Regions from separate parts of the Homo sapiens genome. Here region 2 is linked to region 1. Evidence: fine-mapped expression QTL. A gene starts in region 1. The other region holds a variant in brackets. All regions are shown on one strand. Distances are between the middles of the regions.

Region 1 (10,560 bases):
GGGAATTATATCCTAGCCTATCTATAACCCAAGTGCAGCAGTGGCAGAGATGGGAGACTGCCCTGCACAATCTACACCACCATTAACCTGACCGTACTTGGATTTCCTATAGTATTTTATTTGCTGACACATGTAATTTGTCAGTTTTTCTGGATTATGTCATTTAATCCTTACATCACCCCAGAAGAAAGCAGTTATTGTTAGTGCTGCATTAAAGATGAGGAAACTCAGGCAGATGCTCCGCACACTTTTCCCTCCTCCCAGCAGCATCACTCCCCACACAGCGATGGCCTCCTCTGGGCAAATGGGTGGGGCAGGCTGGACGTGCCAGGGAGTCAGGGCCTCTGGGAGCAGCCCACAAACTCTGAATGAGGCAAATTGGAGCATAAGTACCCCAGCTCCTTTTCTGCTCGGCTGGGACAACTGAGGCACGTCCCTCTGGGGGAATTTTAACCCTAAAGAGAGAAGATTCCTTCCTAAATGACCCCTCCCCTTGTTCCCTATAAGGTGACCCCCAAATGCCCATTCTTGCTGTCTTCAGGAGTTAGAGCCCTTGATGCTTGGCAAGCACAGGACTGCCTAGAAGGGAGACTACATTTTCCAGCATTCCTTGCAGCCAGGTGTGGCCATGTGACTAAGTCCTGACCAATGGGATGGAAGCATAAGTCTGCATGGCAGCTTCCAGATACCTTTAGTTAAGTAATGGTGTATGTGTGCCCTTTGCTTCTCATTTTCCATCCCTCCCTCCATCCTGCAGCCAGAAACATGAATGCTGCCTTCCTGAAGGCCACACAGAACCTTCTGTGTCCCAAATACTGTACAGTATCATACTAAACTGCTTAACCAGACCTTACACAAGTGAGAAACATTTTGGATAAGCCAATGACATTTTGGGTAAGCCAGTATCACTTTTTCTGTTTTTTTCTGTATGGCGGGGGGGGGGGGGGGGGGGCTGGTAAAATATGCATAACATAAAATTTACCAACTTAACCATTTTAAGTATATAGTTTGTGATAGTAAATATATTCATAATGTTGTGAAATCACCACCAACATCCATCTCTGTAACTCCTCATCTTGCAAAGCAGAAACTCCGTACCCATTAAATACTAACTCCCCATTCTCCCCATCCCCAGCCCTGACAACCACCATTGTACTTTCTGTCTCTATGAATTTGACACGCCCAACTACCTTATGTAAGTGGAATCATACAATATTTTTCTTTCTGTGACTGGCTTGTTTCACTTAGCATAATGTCTTCAAGTTTCAACCATATTGTAGCATATGTCAGAATTACCTTCCTTTTTAAGGGTGTATAATATTCTATGTATCGACCACATTTTGTTTACGTATTCCTTTGTCAGTGGACACTTGGGTTGCTTCTACATTTTAGCTATTGTGAACAGTGCTGTTATGAACACGTATATGCAAGTAGCTATTCAAAACCCTCTTTCAATTCTTTTGGGTATATGCACAGAAATGGAAATGTTGCATCATATGGTAACTCTATTTTTTAATTTTTTGAGGAACTGCCATACTGTTTTCCACAATGGCTGTACCATTTTACAGTCCCATCAACAGTCCATAATTTCTCCACATCCTAACAAACACTTATTTTCTGTTGTTTTTTGTTTTGTTTTGTTTTTTATAGTTGCCATCCTAATTGGTCTGAAGTGGGTCAATGTCAGTTTGGAGTTTCTGTCCTTTATAGTTGAAAGCAATCCTAATTAACACTGAGCCCAATCCACAAAGCATAGTTTTCTGTGCCCTTGCATGCCCATGCCATGGGTTCAAGTCAAGTATTCTGCAACCATGAAAGGTGCTAGAAAACCACACCACCATGTTCTCAGAAGGAAAAGTCATGAACTGAAGGAAGAACAATTATGAATATGTGCAATGTGCACGCATTCCCAGATCTAAAACCATCTGCGAAGCTGAGTTCTATCTAGGAAACTAAACATCTCTGCATAAGTTTTACATTTCACATCAGGATGTTACATTTAGTAGTTTATTTTGTGTGTTGCAATAACAGAGCCAGAAATTAGTTTTTAAATGTATAATTAGCTTTGAGAATAAAACTTAATAAAATCTAATTTTCTTATTGCTCTTTCCTGCTGGAAATATCTAAGAGTTTCCATAGCTTAAGAACATGTTTGAGGATCAACACATTAACCTGATATTGTGAGTAATTTTCATGCTGTAAAGACAAGTCTAGATATTATATTAAAGAGAAGTGATTTCCGGGCGCGGTGGCTCACGCCTGTAATCCCAGCACTTTAGGAGGCCGAGGCGGGCAGATCACGAGGTCAGGAGATCGAGACCATCCTGGCTAACACGGTGAAACCCTGTCTCTACTAAAAATACAAAAAAATTAGCAGGGTGTGGTAGTGGGCGCCTGTAGTCCCAGCTACTTAGGAGGCTGAGGCAGGAGAATAGCGTGAACCCAGGAGGCAGAGCTTGCAGTGAGCCGAGATCACGCCACTGCACTCCAGGCTGGGTGACAGAGCGAGACTCTGTATCAAAAAAAATAATAAAATAAAATAAGAGAGAGAGAGAGAGTGATTTCACTACAAAGAATTCATGATGTGTATATTCATATAAGTATATTCATAAAGTGAAAAAACTGGCTTCAATTAACTGTTTTACATAAATTATTTTTAGTTTTCAACAATTTGAATAATTGACTCTGTTGTTGTATTTTGATAGTTTTGTTTTTATTTCATTCTTGTTTTATTCAGTGTTTTGTTTAGTCTTTGACCTGTTAAAGACCTGATTTTGAAATTATTCAACTGCCAGGTAGAGACTATGCCTAGCACTGGCATGGAACCAAGCCTGCACATACTAACCCATTGCTGCATTATTTTCCCCTGGCTTTAGGTAGCCATCAACTCACCTCTGGAATGTAAACTCCAGCCTGGCATGTATGTGTATGTGTGTGTGCCTATGGATGTGGATGAGCATTTCTATAATGATTTTCAGTTCCCACTACCACAATCCAAATGTCAAAACTTCTCCAAGGGGGCAAAGGGAGGGAATAAATTAATATGAATTTTAAATAAATCACAGAGCCTGATGGAACTGCTTCATGATGGGCATATAACTCAGAACCAAGTGCAATCAGTAAAGACCAGGAAAACCCAACATGGCCTTTCCTTCAACTAGGACTCATGGATGTCATGCTTACCAGCCAAAGTACAGTAGACTATGGTCTAATGCCAACACAAAGGCCATCCAGGGAATCTTGATGGTCCATCAAGCTGCCCCGGATGTCTGAGCCACAGGGCACTTTCCCCCTTTGCTTTGGAGAACATGAGCTTCATCTGAATGAGGTCCTATTTCTGGGCCTTAGGCTGCAGGAGTCCAAGAACGGATTATCTCAAGATACAGTGTTCCCGAAAGAGCATAGGCCCAGGGTGAGAAAACCCAGGTTCAAGTTCTGCCACCCACAGGCCCTCTCCCAGGCTCAGTTTCCCCATGAAGTTCTGTAACAAGTGGATTTTCAGGTCCCTTCTACCAGCTCCAAGTCTGTTTCTACAGATTAAACCCCAAGACAAAAGAGCTGACAGGAATCGAATCAATAAATGTGATTTGATAAATGTGTTCAGAACACAACAATGAATAACCTGCCCAAGATTCAGATTGAGAAACTGGAACTCAAACATAGAGCAGGTTTACAGAAATCCTCTGACTACCCTATGCCAAGGGTTCCCAAATCTGGCTGGAATGACCAGTGGCACTCATTAAAAATGTTTAAGCTTCTGGGCCCCTCTTGAGGTCCAGGGTAGAGCCTAGACATCTGTATTTTAAAATTCATTTATGTAATTTTAAATGGATGAATATCTTACATGGTTAAATAAGTGTGTGTGTGTGTGTGTGTGTGTGTGAGACAGAGTCTCACTCTGTCACCCAGGCTGGAGTGCAGTGGCGCAATCTCAGCTCACTGCAGCCTCCGCCTCCCAGATTCAAGTGATTCTCCTGCCTCAGCCTCCCGGGTAGCTGGAACTACAGGCGTGTGCCACTACACCCAGCTAATTTTTGTATTTTTTAAAGTAGACACAGGGTTTCACAATGTTGGCCAGGCTGGTCTGGAACTCCTGACCTCAAGTGTTCTGCCTGCCTTGGCCTCCCAAAGTGCTGGGATTACAGGCGTGAGCCACTGCACCCAGCCCATAGTTAAATAATTTTTTTAAAGATATAAAAAGATGTTCTGTTAAAAGTCTCCTTCCCACCTCTGTCTCCCAATTGCTCAGTTCCTACTCACTTATCTCCCTCAGGTAGCCAGTGTCATTGGGGCATGTGCCTGTGTGTGTGTCTGTGTGTGTGTGTCTTTGTGTGTGTCCTGAAATTCTTTTTATGCAAGCAAAAAAAAAACTCTACTCTCCTCCCCTTTTAAAAGACTACATGACAATAACATACTTTTTTCCACTGCATAGTATTCCATTACATGGAGGAAGCACCTGTCTCCTTTTAATGGGCATTTATTTGGTTCCAGGCTTATTGCAGATCCTGCTGCAGTGAGTATCTTTGCAGGCATGCCATTGCACACCTGCTGGAGTGTACCTGTTGCAGTGAGTATCTTTGCAGCCATGCCATTGCACACCTGCTGGAGTGTACCTGCTGCAGTATTGGTGGAGGCATGCCATTGCACACCTGCTGGAGTGCATCCTATAATACATTCCTCAAAGTAGCCTTCTGAGTCAAAGAGCACACACATTTATAACTTGAAAAAATGTTGACAAATTGCATCTTTTTTTTAACAGCTCCTATGTGATTTTAACACATTACTCAATCTGTGGGAGGGGAGACCATGCCCTGGACCAGTGCTGCTTAGTCAACATTTAACTTTTTAAACTGAAAATCACCTGGGGAGCTTGTTAAAATGCAGATTCTGATTCTGGAGTTCTAGGGTGGGCCCAAGAATCTGTATTTCTAGCAAACTCCCGGGTGATGCCAATACTGCTGGTCCATGGACCGCACTTTGAGTATCAAGACACTAGAGGACACATACTGAGCATAATTCCCAGGTGTCAGCTGCTATGCCATGAAGGCAATTAGACTTAGCATGCCCAGGACCTAAATTCCAGTCCCGGGACAGCAGTTCGCCAGCTGAGGGGCCTTGCTGGCCAAATCCCTACATTTTCTGAGCCTCAGTCGCCTCATCTGTAAAACAGGTGCAGTAAAGATAAGTATGTAAGGATTAAATAACATCGGTACATCTCAAAACCAATGTGCTGAGCAAAAGAAGCCAGACAATAGAGTACATCCCGTAAGATTCTATTTTTGTGGAACTGTAGAATAGGCAAAGTCAATCTATGGTGATAGAAATCAGAATGGGTGCCTCCGGTCTGGGGCAAAGGGGACTGACTGGGAAAGGGGAGGAGGGAACTTTCAGGGGTAGTGGAAATATCTCACTTGTTTTCGTGGTAACACGGGTATATACATTTGTCAAAACTCACTGAACTATGCACTTCAAATCTGTGCATTTTATAACATGTAAGTTATACCAAAATTTAAAAATAGATGAAAAGTAAATGATACAACTTCGTGTAAACTGTGACGTGCCATCAAAACAGAAGCCAGTCTTAGCTTAAGGAAATGTGCCACCTGCGTGCAGGGATGAGGTCATCGATCGACAGGGGACCAGAGACGGCGCTCCACCCCTGCATGGTAGCAGCGTGCTCCCAGCCCCGCGCCGCCGGGACGGCCCACGCCCTGCCTCGGTTTCCCCCGATGGCCGCCGCTTACTTGCTTCGGAACTCGTCGAGCGCGCGCTGCGCCTCGGTGCCCTGGCGCTCCAGCCGGGCGCGCTCGGCCTCCAGGTCCCGGACGCGCTGGCGGTTGCTCTCGACTTGGCGGGCGAGGGCGTCCTCGGGCCCGGCCAGCTCGCCCAGGCGCTGGAAGGCATCCAGCTGCCTCCGGAGCCCGGCATGGCGCTGCTCGAGGGCGCGGGCCCGCTGGACGTGGGCGGCCACGCGCTCGCCGAGCCCCTGCAGCGCCGCCAGGCTCGTTGCCCCAGCCCAGCCCTCGTCGGCCGGGCGCTCGGGCTCGGCGGCGCGCGAAGCCTCGTCGGCGTGCTCGTACTGCTCCTTGCGGGTCTGGAAGACGTAGCTGCGCCGGTACATGGCTGCTCTGGCGCGGGCGCGCGGGCGGCGCCGAGCCGGCTCTCCAGGAGGCCCCCGGCGCAGCCCGCAGCCCGCTAAATAAACACCGGAGGCCCCCGGCGCGCTGCTGGGACGTTCCAGAGCCGATCAGCAGTTGGGCGCCACGCTGGGCCCGGGCGCGGGAGAAGAAAAGAGCAGCGGCCCGCTTTGTGCGGCGGATTAGCGGCCCATACAGCTCCGGGGTTGGAAGGTTACGCTGGGCAATGAGGTTTTTGTTCCGTGATTGTTCAGGCCTGTTGCTTTTGATTGAATGGAGGGTCAGGGGACACGGGAGCCATGACGCTCTTTTCACTGGTTCCACTGGGGACTGTGAAGGAATCCCCAAGCGAACTCTTTAAACTTGGACTAGCTCAAGAGCCCAGGGCTTGTCACTTTGTCTCCTCTTGCATTCAAACTCAATTGTAGAACTCTTTAACAATGCCATTTTTTTTTTCTGATTACTTAAGCAATTCTTTTTTTTTTCTTTTGGTCTTTTTTATTTCCAATTGCTCGGTTATGCATGCAATTCTTTTTCATAATCATAACATGACGTTTAGGACCCTTCTGTATAGCAGAGGTTCTTAACCATGGATGCAAAATAAAATGGCATGTCTCCATTAAGTAGTGAGGTGTGGCGCAAGTAATTTCTTAGTAATACCCGTGCATAAAAGCCTACAATAACTTAGGAGACATGCACGGTTATGTTTTTATAATTCACCCATGCTCTGATGGAGTTTGACATGCTTTCTTGAATGGAAAAAACAAATAGAGCCCCACCCATGGGCCTGTAATAGGTGGTTCACGCCTGTAATCCTAGCACTTTGGGAGGCCGAGGCGGGCGGATCACCTGAGTTCGAGGCCAGCCTGGCCAACATGGTGAAACTCCGTCTCTACTAAAAATACCAAAATTAGCCAGGCGTGGTGGCGTGTGCCAGTAATCCCAGCTACCTGGGAGGCTGAGGCAGGAGAATCGCTGGAACCTGGGAGGCGGAGGCTGCAGTGAGCCGAGATCGCCCCACTGCACTCCAGCCTGGGTAACAGAGTGAGACTCCGTCTCAAAAAAAAAAAAAAAAAGAAAAAGAAAAAAAGATTGCTTTTTTCTTTTTCTTTTTTTAACATAAAATGTAATACAAAAAAATTTTAATAAAAAATGAGATGGGGTCTTGCTATGTTGCCCAGGCAGGACTCAAACTCCTGGGCTCAAGTGATCCGCCATTAATTGGCCAACCCTCAATTCGAGAATAATAAAGGATTTTGTGCCATTATGTTCCATTTTAATTTTTATTATGGAACTAATAGTTGGATTTTAAGGACAAGCTTTTAAAATATATATATATAATTAATAGCTAGACTTTGACAAATTTAAAAGTAAATTTAAGAAAAGAAATTAATACCACTTGATGAGAATGTTTCTGAATGTAAATATTTTGTCATATCTCCAACTTTAAAAATAAGTATCAAAAGGGTTGTTTTCTTAAAAGGATTAGTAGTACCATATAATTACTAACTATATGGATTGTGTGTGATTATACTACAAATTAAAGTCATAGTTATCAAAGATAGAGAAAGAAAATTACACAGATCTTTGTGGAGTTTATTATTACACCAAAATATTACCTCAAGATAATAGATTCCGTCTGGAATAAAGCTCTGCAAGGCCCTAAACTGTGCTGGTGGCATGGTTATTGTTCTATTTTCTTAAACCATTTAAAATTAGATTTGGCCAGGTGCAGTGGACCACACCTCTAATCCAGAACTTTGGGAGGCCAAAGTGGGAGGATCTCTTGAGGCCAGGAGTTCAAGACGAGCCTTGGCAACATAGTGAGACCCCCATTTCTTTTATTTATAAAAATAAAAATAATAAATAAAAATACATAAAATGTAATTGTATGGTCAAATTGAGGATAACCACATGAATATTTTTGTAGGTGCACATATACCATGCTGATAGCATGGTAAATTGACTTCAGGCTTCCTCACGAGAGCAAAACCAACATATAGCAAGAGTTATAAAATCATTTGTTCCCTATGATACCATGTATCAGTCAAATATTGCTACAGAACAAAATAGAAGTATTTATCACTGCATTCCCTGGGGCTGGGAGCTCAGCTGTCTTCCAGCTGTAGGTCTCCTTTCAGCAGGGGCTGCTCTGCTCCCAATGTCCCTCAAGCTTCTAAACTAGCAATGAAAAAAGCACAAGAGCAAGCCCAGCCACACAAGCTCATCCCAGGCCTTTGTTTGCATCATGTCTGCTGACATCTCATTGGTCAAAGCAAATCACATGGCCACAAATAAAGTCAAGAGGAAGCAAGGAGGAGGCAGGGCTCAGCCTGAGGCCCTGGCAAGGGTGTGGGTGGATAATCCCATCATGCTGGAGTGGAGAATCAGGACCCACAACTCAATCGACCACACATGGCAATACCATTTGAGAAAAATATATTCTAGAAACATAACAAAAAATTCTTTCAATTTAATCCAGTGAAATAAACACTCAGAAAATATCTCCTCACAAAGCGTAGCCTCAGAGTTAAATATTGCACAAAATCAAGTCTCTGCCCTCAGGGTGCAGGAGGCGAATCCATACTGACTAATGAAAACACAAGATAATCTGGACAACTTCTAAAATAAAGATCTTAGCAAAATGCTGTGGTTGTATTGTCTAACTTCAGGTGCACTGGGAAATGCAATCCTGCTATGTGCTTAGAAGGAGTGTGCAATATTTGTCAACAGCCCTAAAGACCATATCACTGATAGGAGACCATTCAGTAGGAGTAGAGATCGTATGCATAAGGAAGAAATCATTGCTGAATGAATTTGTTAATTCAAGAGACATGTTCGTAGAGATAGATTCCACAGGACTTGATGAAAGGTCAGCTATGGAAGAGTTACTCTAAATACAGTTGAATGGCACTAGTTTGGGGGCAGGGACAGGAAATGGATGTTTTAGAATAAGAAAGATCTGAGGTTAAGTTCTGGTCCCATCACTTCAGTAAGTGATTTAACCTATCTAGTCCCAGTATGGAGACTGGTAAAATGAGAATAATCACTTATGTAAGTAGGGTAACCACACATCCCAGTTTGCCTAAGACACATTTACACCCACTATCTCAGCGTAAATATAGCAAGCACCATCTTTCACTCTCAAGGGTATCTTGGTTTGTCTGAGAAATACACGTCTTTTATCTGGCCTGCATAACCTGAATATGTAGCCTATATCTGACCATAAGGAATCATCCAGATAAATCCCAAAGAAGGAACATCCTATTAATAAAAACAGAAGGGGGATGGTATTCTATAAAAATGTTAATATCATAAAAGACAAAGAGAAGCTATGAAAATGTTCCAGATTAAAGGAGACTGAAGAGACAGGACATCTAAATGCAGTATAGGGCCGAGTGTGGTGGCTCATGCCTGTAATCCTAGCACTTTGGAGGCTGAGGTGGGTGGATCATCTGAGGTCAGGAGTTCGAGACCAGCCTGGCCAACATGGTGAAACCCCATCTCTACTAATAATACAAAAAATTAGCCGGACGTCGTGGCTTGTGCCTGTAGTCCCAGCTACTCGGGAGGCTGAGACATGAGAATTCCTTGAATCCGGAGGGGTAGAGGTTGCAGTGAGCCAATATCACGCCACTGCACTCCAACCTAGGTGACAGAGTGAGACTCCATCTCAAAAATAAAAATAAATAAATAAATGCAATATGGATCCTAGACTGGATCTTGTATTGGAGGAGAAAAACTGCTATAAAGGTTATCACTAGGTTCATTAACAAAATTAGAATATAAATAGTAGATTAGAACATAAAATTGTATCAAGATTAAATTTACTGAAGTTTATGACTATGCTACAGCTATGTAAAATAATATCATTATTCTTAGAAAATACACTCTGAGGGCTCAGGCTGGGCACGGTGGCTCACGCCTGTAATCCCAGCACTTTGGGAGACCAAGGTGGGCGGATCATGAGGTCAGGAGTTCAAGACCATCCTAGCCAACATGGTGAAACCCCATCTGTACTAAAAATACAAAAAAATTAGCAAGGCATGGTGCTACACACCTGTAGTCCCAGCTACTTGGGAGGCTGAGGCAGGAGAATCACTTGAACCCAGGAGGCAGAGGTTGCAGTGAGTCGAGATAATGCCAATGCACTCCAGCCTGGCAACAGAGCGAGACTTCATCTCAAAAAAAGGAAAATATACTCTGAACTATCTAGGAGCAAAGACCCATGATGTATGCAACTTATTCTCAAATGATTCTGAATAAAATGACATGTATAAATATAAACATAAATAAGTATGAGAGATAGTAAGGAAATTAGACAAAATATTAAGAGGTGAATCTGGGTTGTTTGTACTATTCTTGCCATTTTTCCTAGAAAGTTTGAAATTATTTTCCAAAACACCTGCAAAAAGTGTGATCA
Region 2 (10,560 bases), 24 kb before region 1:
CGAGATCATGCCACTGCACCCCAGACTGGGTGACAGAGCACCCCAGACTGGGTGACAGAGCACCCCAGACTGGGTGACAGAGCGAGACTCTGTCAAAAAAAAAAAAAAAAGCAGGTGTTCAGCCATAGATCTGTTGCATTAGAAGGGAGGAGGAAGGGAAGAAAAGGTACGTGTGCTAAGCACTTTGGGGAGATGTCTGTCCAGTCCACGTTGTCCCTGTGTCTGATGTCAGCCCCACCCATCCAAAGGCACGGTCCCAGCAACAAGATGACCCCACTCTCCTGTGCAGAGTTATAGGACCAGGGGTGGGCCTGACCTAGGCTGGCCTGTCACATGCCTTCTCTCCTGGGAATCTGGAAAGGGGTCTCAGAAATCGCAGAGTTGGTGGGAGGTTCTAGACAACAGGGACACATGAACGGGTCTGAGGCTGCCGCTCTGGAGTGGCGAGCTTTCATGTGCATGGCAAAGTTGAGAAAGGTAATTATTTGGAGAGGAAAAGAAATGAAGCCGAAAGGCAAAGACAAACAGAAATTAGGGAGCCATGGCAAGAGAAGGAAGAGATGGAAAAGGAGACGGAGAGCGGCTGCCTCAGCTCCCAGTTCCTGGTTCCTGATTCCTGATGCACACCTGCTCTCAGATTTCATGCCCTGCCTTTTATACCCTGCTCCTTTGGAAAAAAAAAAAAATAGTACCTTTCCGGTGGAGAAAACTGGCAGACAGCACCTTAACCAAGTGATCAGAGTTATTGTCACCTGTATGAGGACACAGCCACATAACGAAATACTCAGGACACAGCGTCACTCCATGGGGGTCTTGCCAAGAATGCAGAACCTCCATCTAATCCTGAGAAAACATCAGGGAAACCCAAAAGGAGAGACATGCCACAAAGCCACTGGTCTGGGTTCTTCCAAAGCATCACGGTCATGGAAGACAGAGAAAGACTGGGGACCATCCCAGTATGGGGGAGACAATCAAGACATGACACCTAAATGTGAGTAGGATCTCGACCAGGAAAAAACACGCGTGGAGCAACTGGTGAGATTTTAGTGCAGTCTATTAATGCGACAGGATCACTGTTAATTTCCAGGTTTTTATCATCGGCCCGTGGTTTTGTGGAAGTTGGGTGAGGGGTATATATTGGAAGCTACTGTGCTGTTTTTGCAACTTTTCAAAAATCTAAAATTACTTCTGAATAAAACAAGAGTCCCCTTCCTGTTTCAGCTAGTGTGATCCAGTTTCTGTTTCTCCCAAGAAATCTGGATTCAAACAGTCGCCTGTAATAGCAAATACAAGTCAGACACACTAACGCCTGGTGCAGCCACATCTCACCCACACCAGAGTGTTCAGACACTCCAGGAAACACTTTCAAGGAATATGGGGATTGAAAAGACCCCTTTGAGCCCCAAATCTCAAAGAAGTGTTGGAATTACATGGTGAGGGAAGTGTGTGGGGCTGTAGAGAACATAGAGGGGCCATGTGTTGAGGGATGGGGCGGGAGGGCTCATGAGACAGACTATTCTCACTTTTAATTTTTGAGACAGGCAGGGTCTCACTCTATTGCCCAGGCTGGAGTGCAGTGCTGCCATCAGGACTCCCTGAAGCCTCCACATCCTGGGCTCAAGTGGTCCCCACACCTTTGTCTCCTCAGTAGCTGAGACCACAGGTGAATGCCACCATGCCCAGCCAATTAAAAAAAAATTTTTTTTTGTAGAGACAAGGTCTAATTATGTTGCCTAGGCTGGTCTTGAACTTCTGGGCTGAAGTGATCCTCCCACCTTGGCCTCCCAAAGTACTAGGATTACAGGCGTGAGCCATAGCACCTATAATCTCTCACTTTTCTATGTTTGAAATCTTCCATAATAAAGAGTAAAAGAAAAAATTACATATGAAGAGAATGTACCCCAGATCACTGACCCAAGAGCTCTGGGGTGGCCGTTCCTTTTGGGTGTGGGTTCCCCAGCCCAGAGCGGGGGTAGTGGCTCATGCTGATAAGTCCTAAGCTGGGTCAACTCATCAACCTCACAACAACCTTATCAGGGAAGGGCTGTCATTATTTCCACTTTACAGATGAGGAAACTGGGGCACACTGGCAAAGTGGCTTGCCCATAAATACCACAGCAGGATTCGAATCTACCTGAACAAGGTCTGAAACACCTCCCAGAACCAGGCCACCCTTGCCCTGCACCTCAGCCTCCTCCCTGCTGCAGGCAACAATATGCAAGCACACACGTGCGTGCACACACACACACTCTGTCTCCAGGGCCCCTGCAAACTCCCCATTCCCACACAGCAACAGGCCAACACCAGCCTGTTCTCTCTGAAGACATGGGAAAGTCAGTGTGAGCCATGCAGAGACCTCTCCTTGCAGGTTTTCACTTAGCAAAGTTTTAAACTGTAAATAGAACCACAAAGCATCACAGAATGGGAAATGAGAGCCCAGGAAAGTCACCTGTGATCTTTCTACCCTACAAGTGGAGTGCAATCTTTTTATGTCTCAGGAAGTGGTGATTGTTGTTTTTGTGGTAGTGGTAGGGGGTGGAGGGATGGGGTGTTTTCTTGGGTGTGCATTTGTGTTTGTTTGAAGAAGGCTGCATGTTTTAAAGGCTGGAGATCCTCTGCTGGAACACTGCGGGAGGAGCTCCTGTCCTGGGCGCCCCCACAGCCCCCATCCCCCACATGACCATGAGGCCCAGAGCCCTCCAACTCCGTACTGGTCGCAGATGCTCTACGGGATTCTGCTGAGTCCAGTGAAGTGATGACTTGGTTTATAAAAGTGGACTGATGTCTATACCGATGTGGTTTTTACAGCTCCATAATTTAAACCTTTCATCAGAAGGAAGAGTGTTCAGGAAAACCAGTAAGAGCTCCTGTCTCAGGAGCTCAACAGGAATGGAGATGCCTGTGACGAGAGCCACTGTGGCACGGCGTCCACTGCCACCCAGCACCAGCCTGGCCGAGGAGAATGAGACACGGACCCTCCTCTAGAAGGCCGCAGTCCAGCAGGGGAGGCACGCCCAGGGCATCTCAGAGGAAGAAAGGGGCTTCCAGGAGGAGGCAGGACCGGTCCTGGGAACCGAGGAAGGAAAGGGACTTCCAGAAAGGAGAGAAGGAATGAGCAAAGGGGAGGTCCCAGAAACTGCAGGAGGGGTCAGGAGACGAAGAGAAGAGAGGTTGGCCCAGGGTTCCTCCAACGGTGGGGCCATGTGGCAACCTGAACTTTATCCGGAGCCAGGTGACTGCTGTTTCTGCCTGGACCGTTAGATTGCCTGGTTTATATCTGTCTCCCCACTGGGCTGTGAGCCGCTGAGGGCACGACACAGGCAGGAGCCTGACGCGAGCCCCATCTGGAGGGGTGAGCTCTCACCTCAGTCCTTAGGACCCCAGACACCTTTAGGTGTAAGGTTTTTTTTTTGTTTTTGTTTTTGTTTTTGTTTTGTCTTAAAAAAAAAAAAAAGGAAACTCATTACATACTGTCTTACACAAACTAAACCACTAGATGGTGCTAAGTGACTTTAATGAGAAATGAGACATGGGCGGTTCCCACTTTGCAATTTTAAAAAGTGACTTTCTTTACTTCCCTGTCACAGAAACTCTCAGTCCATGCAATTTAGGGAACTAGAATTACCTGTCCTTTCCTCTCCACCTGTCCGAAGTGCTTCCTCCGGGGCTCTTACGGGTATATGTGCACTTATTTGAAGGAGAGGCTTCCAGCTTCCAGCTCCAAGCCCAGGCACTATTCTCCCATCGTCCGCCCAGCGTCTCCCAGACTGAGCCCGCAGAGCCACGTGGAGGGCTTAAACAAGGCGCACCGGCCCGCCCCAGAGCTCCTGGGTCAGTGGTCTGGGGTGCCTGTGAATCTGCATTTCTGACAAGTTCCCAGGTGGTGCCCCCGCTGCTGGGACGGGGACCTCACCCTGACGACCCCTGCTGTGGAGAGTTCGGGAAGCTTCGGACGCCCTAACCATAGGCGGAACCCGCTGCCACGGCCCTGGTGCTAGCAGACGCTCTCTCTCGGCCCGCCCTCCACCGAGTTCCGGCCACAGAGCGGGCCCTGCCCGGCGGTGTGCGGCCACATCTTCCTTCAGCTCTAGCTTAGCTGCTACATTGGGAAGCCACTAAAACCTTTAAAACCAGCAAAAACCC[A/T]GCCACAAACATTTGAAATGAGGCCCAAGCCTGGGACACAGGGGGACCAGGTGGAACATTCGCCCACTCCCTGGGACCCGCCCTTACCCTGTGGTTCTCAGTGTGGCTCCTGGACCAGCCGCAGCACCATCACAGGGACACCTAGACATGCAGCATCCCGGGCCACACCCCAGACCCACTGAGTCAGGAGCTCCCGGGCGCACCCAGCCACGTCTGGGTTTTCATCAGAGCTAAGGAGGCAGAATTTTGGCCCCCGTGACCTTTTCCCCTTGGTGCTACACCCTTGAATATGTTACATGGCAAAAAGGGACTTTGCAGATATAATTAAAGTTCTTAATCAGTTACCCTTTTTTAAGGAAAGGAGTTTATTCAAGATTATCCCCTAAAAACAGAAGTCAGAGAAACGTGTAAGTCCAAGTCATTGAGATGAGACGCAGGAAGAGGGTTCAGAGTTCGCTGCCGGCTCCGAACGTGGAGGGGCCTGAAGCCAAGGAGCCTGGGCAGCCCTGACAGCCACTCCTGGCCAGCAGCCGGCAAAGAAACAGGGTCCTCACTCCTGCCAAGAACTTGAATGAGACTGGAAGCAAATTCTCCCCTAACAGCCTCTGGACAAGGGCCCAGGCTGGCCAACATCTTTCTTTCTACCTTTTGAGACCCAGAGCAGAGAAACCGATAGGACCCACCCAGACTTCCCACCTACACAACTGCGATGACACGGGTGCTGGTGGTGACTCATCAAGGCAGCAACAGAAAATGGACACAGCCGTGTTTCATCAGCTACATGCTATAGCTTGTTACTGAGTGAGTATAAGCACATCTGTCATTTTATTTAAAATGATTCAGTAATATTTTGATAACTGTTTTAATATAATTAGTTTCTTTTTTTTTTTTTTTGGAAACGGGGTCTCATTCTGTTGCCCAGGCTGGAGTGCAGTGGCTCAGTCTCAGCTCACTGCAGCCTCAACCTCTCCAGGCTCAGGCAGTCCTCCCATGTCAGCTTCCTAAGTAGCTGGAACCACAGGCACGCACCACCACGCCCAGCTAATTTTTGTATTTTTTGTAGAGGTGGGGTTTCGTCATGTGGCCCAGGCTGGTCTCAAATTCCTGGACTCGAGCAGTCCACTCACCTTGCCCTCCCAAAGTGCTGGCATTACAGGCGTGAGCCACCACACCCAGCCTGGTTTCCTTTAAATTATCTGTATTTTATTTTATGCCTTTACCATCATTTTTCTGAGAAGCGGTCTCCATCAGAATGCCACGGGTGGGAGTGGAGGAGGCAGCACAGAAGAGATGTTTGAGACCCTGCTTTAGAGACGAGGGCAGCAGGGAAAAGCCAGGAAGTCCTCCTGCAGCCACTCAGGACAGAAACAGGCGGCCAACCAGCGGTTTCATTTCATGTTCTCAGAAACCAGGTTAATCTGTTGTGAAATTTCTTATTTTGATATTCAACAAATACCTGTACATAAAGAGAGGAACATTCTTTTTGTCCTGGAACTGGAATTTGCCATCTAGGCTGGGCTCCTTCATCTTTCTCAGTATCTCTAGGGCAGTGGTTTTCAACTTTATCACCACCGCCCCAGGAAAAACCACATTTCTCATTGCGAGCCATACACATCAGATAGGTAGGTGTGTGTGTGTGTGTGTGTGTGTGTGTGTGTGTATTTCAACATATCCATATGGATATAGAGAGATAAAACAAGGGCTTCACAAAACAAATCCTCCCTTTCACTTGCTGTACACTCTGTTTTTCTTATTATATTTTAGTCTAGCATTTTGTTGACTTCCTTTTACATGCCAGTCAATTCTACTGAGTTCATTTTACATCCAAAAATGAGTTGTCACTAGCCATTTGGAAAACACTGGTCTCTAGGACCACGACTGGGCTTGTATCCACGTCCCTATTCACATACACAGCACACACACATACACATGACACACACACACCACACACACTTCACATACACATCCCACATATATCACACATACCATGTATATCACACACACACACCCCATGTACACAAACACATACAACCCTTATTCTATCCTGTCAGAGCCTCAGAAGAAACCACACAGGCCCCAGTCACCAGGATGAGGCACATGGTCCCTGAGCCAGGGTTTGTCTCACAAGAAGGAGGAGTTTTAAGTGCCTTACTTGGTTCCTCCTGCTGCGATCGTCAGTTCAGGGGACCACCACAGACCCGGGTTTGCTTTCCAGCAGCCCCTGAGAGCTGCTGCACTGTGAGTTTTGTGTGGTGCGTGCTGGGATGGGAATTAGGATGTGAACTCCAAGGTCCCAAAATGAAATCCTGAGCAGACATGGGGGCACTGGAAATCAATAAAAAGCGCTACATCTAGTTGTGGCTTCACATTTTTAGACAGAGTAACACATAACATCCAAATGGTCCAGGCTTTCTGAAGTGTCCGATTTTTACACGTTTTGCTCTCTTGTCCCCATGTGTACTTGTCAAACCAAATGTCAACTTACTTTTTGGTTTGGGAAATGTGGTTAGAGAGCCATACAAAGGTGCAGTATTTTAACCCAAGCGTCCCTGTGGAATGACCTGCTGTAGGGTAATGAGAAAGAGAGAGAACCGGAAGGAACAAAGAAGATGAGCCGGCAAGTAGCCAAGAAGGCACAGGCCACAGGACAGTTTGGGGCTTTTCTGTTTTGTTTTCAAATTAAGCTTCACCCAAAAGGGGTGGGGGTAGAAATGTGAGCTTTCCACCAACACGTTTCTAACTAGAAGCAAACACTGATACAACCACTCTTGCCGGGTTGTAATCAAATTCCGAAGGAGAACTGTTACCATGAGAAGGAAAACAGAAGCACAGATTTGAACAAGTGGAGGATAAAAATCCCTATGGTGTCCGTTTCTTCTTATTCTTACGAAGCTTGACCTGGGCAAAATGAATGCATGATGTAGACACTGGGGCAGCCTAAGCCTAAGACTCGGTGGGGAGGGCATGACTCGAAGGAGTCCCAAGGGGCACCTCTGAGGGGCCAGGAATGAGCGTGGCACCTGTGTCCCCCAGCTCAGGACTCTCCCTGTGTCCTGGAAAACTCCTCAGTCCAGGCCAGAGCAGAGCGCTTGGCCACCCACTCAGAAAACCCCGTTTCTGCCAGGAACATAGGATATGTTCAGCGTGTGACAGCTCCTCAAGCTGCATGCGTGTGCCTGCGCGTAACACCTCCATGAAACATGTGGGAAGCCCCAATGCACACGCGGCAGACTCGAGCGTACCTGTGCCTGCAGCTCCACTCTCTGCGCCTGCAGGTGGGAGAGCACCTCCCGGCCCTCCTCCAGCTGACTCCGCAGGGCGGCCACCTCCCGCTCCGTCAGGAGCTTCTCCTGCACAGAGAAGGCCAGAGTCAGACTCATGGGACATGCAGAGAGGAAAAGGGCAGAGAAGGTGCGGGGCCCTGGTATGGACGGAATATCCGTGTCCCCCTGAATTCTGTGTTGAAGCCCTAACTAACTCCCAAGATGAAGGTTTTAGGAGACCTTTGGAAGGTGTTAGGGTTAGATGAGGTCATGAGGATGGGGGGCCCCATCATGTGATTAGGGTCTTTGTAAGAACAAGAAGAGACACCAGAGCCCCCACCCCCACCCCCTGTCTGTCTGTCACGTGAGACACAGCAAGAAGGCAGCCGTCTTCAAGCCAGAAAGAGAGCCCTCACCAGACACCAATTCTGCTGGCATCTTGATCTTGGACTTCCAGCACCCAGGACAGTGAGAAGTAAATGTCTGCCTGTCGGCCCTCCCATCTGTAGTGTCCTGTTATAGTAGCCTGAGAAGACTAAGCCAGGCCCACAGCACAGCCATCAATGCCTTTTGCTTTGTCTTCAAAGTCTGAACCTCCTTGGGAGTGTGACATGCCGGGACCAAGTACCAGGAGACCAGAGCTTAGACCTGGCTGTGCCATGAACCTACTAAGAGACTCTAGAAAAGGATTTGACTCTCAAAGCCTCTGTTTTCCCTTCTGTGAAAGGGAAAACCTGGAATGCACACTCTCGAAGAAAATGAAGGCTGGTTGGAGCCGCGAGCCATACGCTGTGCTCGGATGTCAGCGCAGCACAAAGCAGGAGCCATCAGCCCCAGTGGGTGAAAGGGAAGTGACGCTCCAGGGAATGGCTAGAAGGAAATCCTCTGACCTCTCCACACTCTGCCAAGCAGGTCCCTCTCTCCTGACCTGCCTTTCCACGTCTATTCAAAAATATTCAAATTGTTTCACAAAGGCCTGACTGCTCAAGAGCCATGCATTCTGACACAGAGCACATTGACTCGAAGCCATGCAAAATCAAACACCAAGTCTACAATGAGGGTTTCTGTGTCCAGAGGCTGCATGGAAGACAGCCTCTGCTTCAAACACCTTACAAAGTGGCTGCAGCAATGACATAGACATACAGGAAAGTGACCGTCTAACTTGATTGTAGAATTGCTAAGCTAAGACTCATAAAGATGTGACACTTTCTCAATCGGTGCTTCTCTATCCTGAGCATGCACACGAGTCCCTGCGGATCTGGCTAAGATGCAGATTCTGCCTCAGTGGGTCTGAGGCTGGACTGGACACTCTGCACGTCTCACAAGCCCAGACGATGCTGATCGATGACATCAAAGTCAGTTTAGTGTCTGTATACTTATGACTTAGAAGGGTCTTATTACATGGGAATAGATGATACAATTCAAAAGGTATGCTCGGATGTAAAACACCTTTGAGTTAGAGTTGGGTTTGAAAAATAAAAGTAACATCTCTGGAAAGGAATCTCTGGGAAAGAAAATTAAGGCTTCAGGAAAAGTTTTTTTAGGCCTTTGTAGCAACATCAGTTACATCCACTAAGGAGAACAGGATCCTGAAATGGTAACTGGTGGGCAATTCAGACAAGACTATCCTCATGAATGCCAAAAAAAGTAACTTTCCTGTCGCTTAGATGATACTTTGCAGGGTTCAAAAGTGTCTTCTAAAGCAAATTTGGGGATTTCTTTAGCTTTGTATAAAATAATTAAGACGAAAAAGTTCAGGCAGCCGGTGACCCCAGCCCATGGGTTCTGCAGCAGTTTGTCTGCATGCTGGTCCTGGGCAGGCCCCACCTCCTGGGAAGCCCATTCATTGACTCGGAGCATGGCCTGAGCACACATCTAGGCAATTTCAAGTGTCACCAGGGTTGAGAGCCACCATCCTAGGTCATCCTTGCAAAAAGACCCAGAACCTTATCTCTTGACCAATCCACCAAACCCTGTAGTAGCCTACCACAACCTCTGAAGAAGGGACACTGTAACATTTTTATTTAATTTGCATCATTTCCAGTGTTTGTGGGGTTTTTTTGCTTCTTGTTTGTTTGTTTGTTTAGAGATGGGGTCTTGCTATGTTGTTCAGGCTGGTATTGAACTCCTAGCCTCAAATGATCCTCCCACCTCAGCCTCCTGAGTAGTTGGGATTACAAGCATGAGCCACCTCACTCAGCACCAGTCTATATATATATATATCATGCTATGCATCACAAAATTCCATAAACCATATTAGGAAAAGCGTTACTATCCCGTTGAGCAGCTAGAGAGTCAAATGAAGAAGGAATTTGGAACATAATATCAGAAGTAATTTTTCATATCCAAATCTTAATTTTTACAAATTGGCTTCAACAATCTCTATCCTTTCCCACTAGTTTCAATGCCACAGGCTCACATAATCATTAGCAGAGCTCCGTCTTGGAAATATATTCACTAATTATCTGAGATTATCTGTATTTGAAATTCATTATCAGATTGATAGGGAGAATAAGGAAACAAACCAATTTTTTAAATGGGCAAGAGGCTTGAGCAGATACTTCCACAAAGAAGCTATCCGGATGGCAGATGAGTGCACAAAAGGATGCTCGGCTTCCTTAGTCATTAGGGGATGCAAATTAAAACCACCACCATTAGAAGAGCAAAGACACACTACAAAGCTGACATACCAAGTGCTGGCAAGGACAGGAAGCCACAGAAACCCTCACGCATTGTGGGTGGAGATGCAACAATGGCACATCGCTTTGGAAAGCAGCTTGGTCATTTCTTATAAAGTATGCAAGGAAGAACAGCTCATAATTCTCAAGAGAAAATACCGAAGAAAATGGTCAAGGATGCGGTTTACATCCTCACATGTCTAAATATTGGCATTTACAGTACAAGTAAAATATCAGAAGAAGAAACTTCAGATGAGAATACAAGGCAGGAGTGGGGAGTGGACCCTGGTGGCCGCCCTCACAGTCCAACCTGTGAGCCCTTCCCTGGGAGTCTCCAGGTACAGCTTCCCTCCAGGGCTGGTTTGCCTTTTCCTGCTTCAATTCTTACCTCCCTCATCCCACTCGTCACAATGGATGCTGGAGGAGTGGTGTGGATGATCTGCTGCAGGATGCTGATATAGGTCTGAACTTCCAGA

The links.
Region 2: its variant is fine-mapped to the expression of BFSP1 in whole blood (TOPMed, PIP above 0.99).

The regions. Positions count from the first base shown.
Region 1 is chr20:17,525,209-17,535,768 of GRCh38, forward strand. It overlaps BFSP1 (beaded filament structural protein 1), which reads right to left and starts at 6,171. Exons shown (of 8, transcript NM_001195.5): 1 at 5,745-6,171. The coding sequence starts at 6,121. RefSeq lists enhancers at 5,431-5,971, 5,972-6,511, 8,325-8,384 and silencers at 5,666-5,715, 5,736-6,065, 6,186-6,235.
Region 2 is chr20:17,501,504-17,512,063 of GRCh38, forward strand. It overlaps BFSP1 (beaded filament structural protein 1), which reads right to left. Exons shown (of 8, transcript NM_001195.5): 4 at 10,473-10,560; 5 at 7,386-7,493. Among named protein-coding and RNA genes, the nearest start is that of BFSP1, 25 kb to the right of the region's middle. RefSeq lists an enhancer at 3,009-3,532. The variant A/T (reference allele first, on the strand shown) is at 4,144.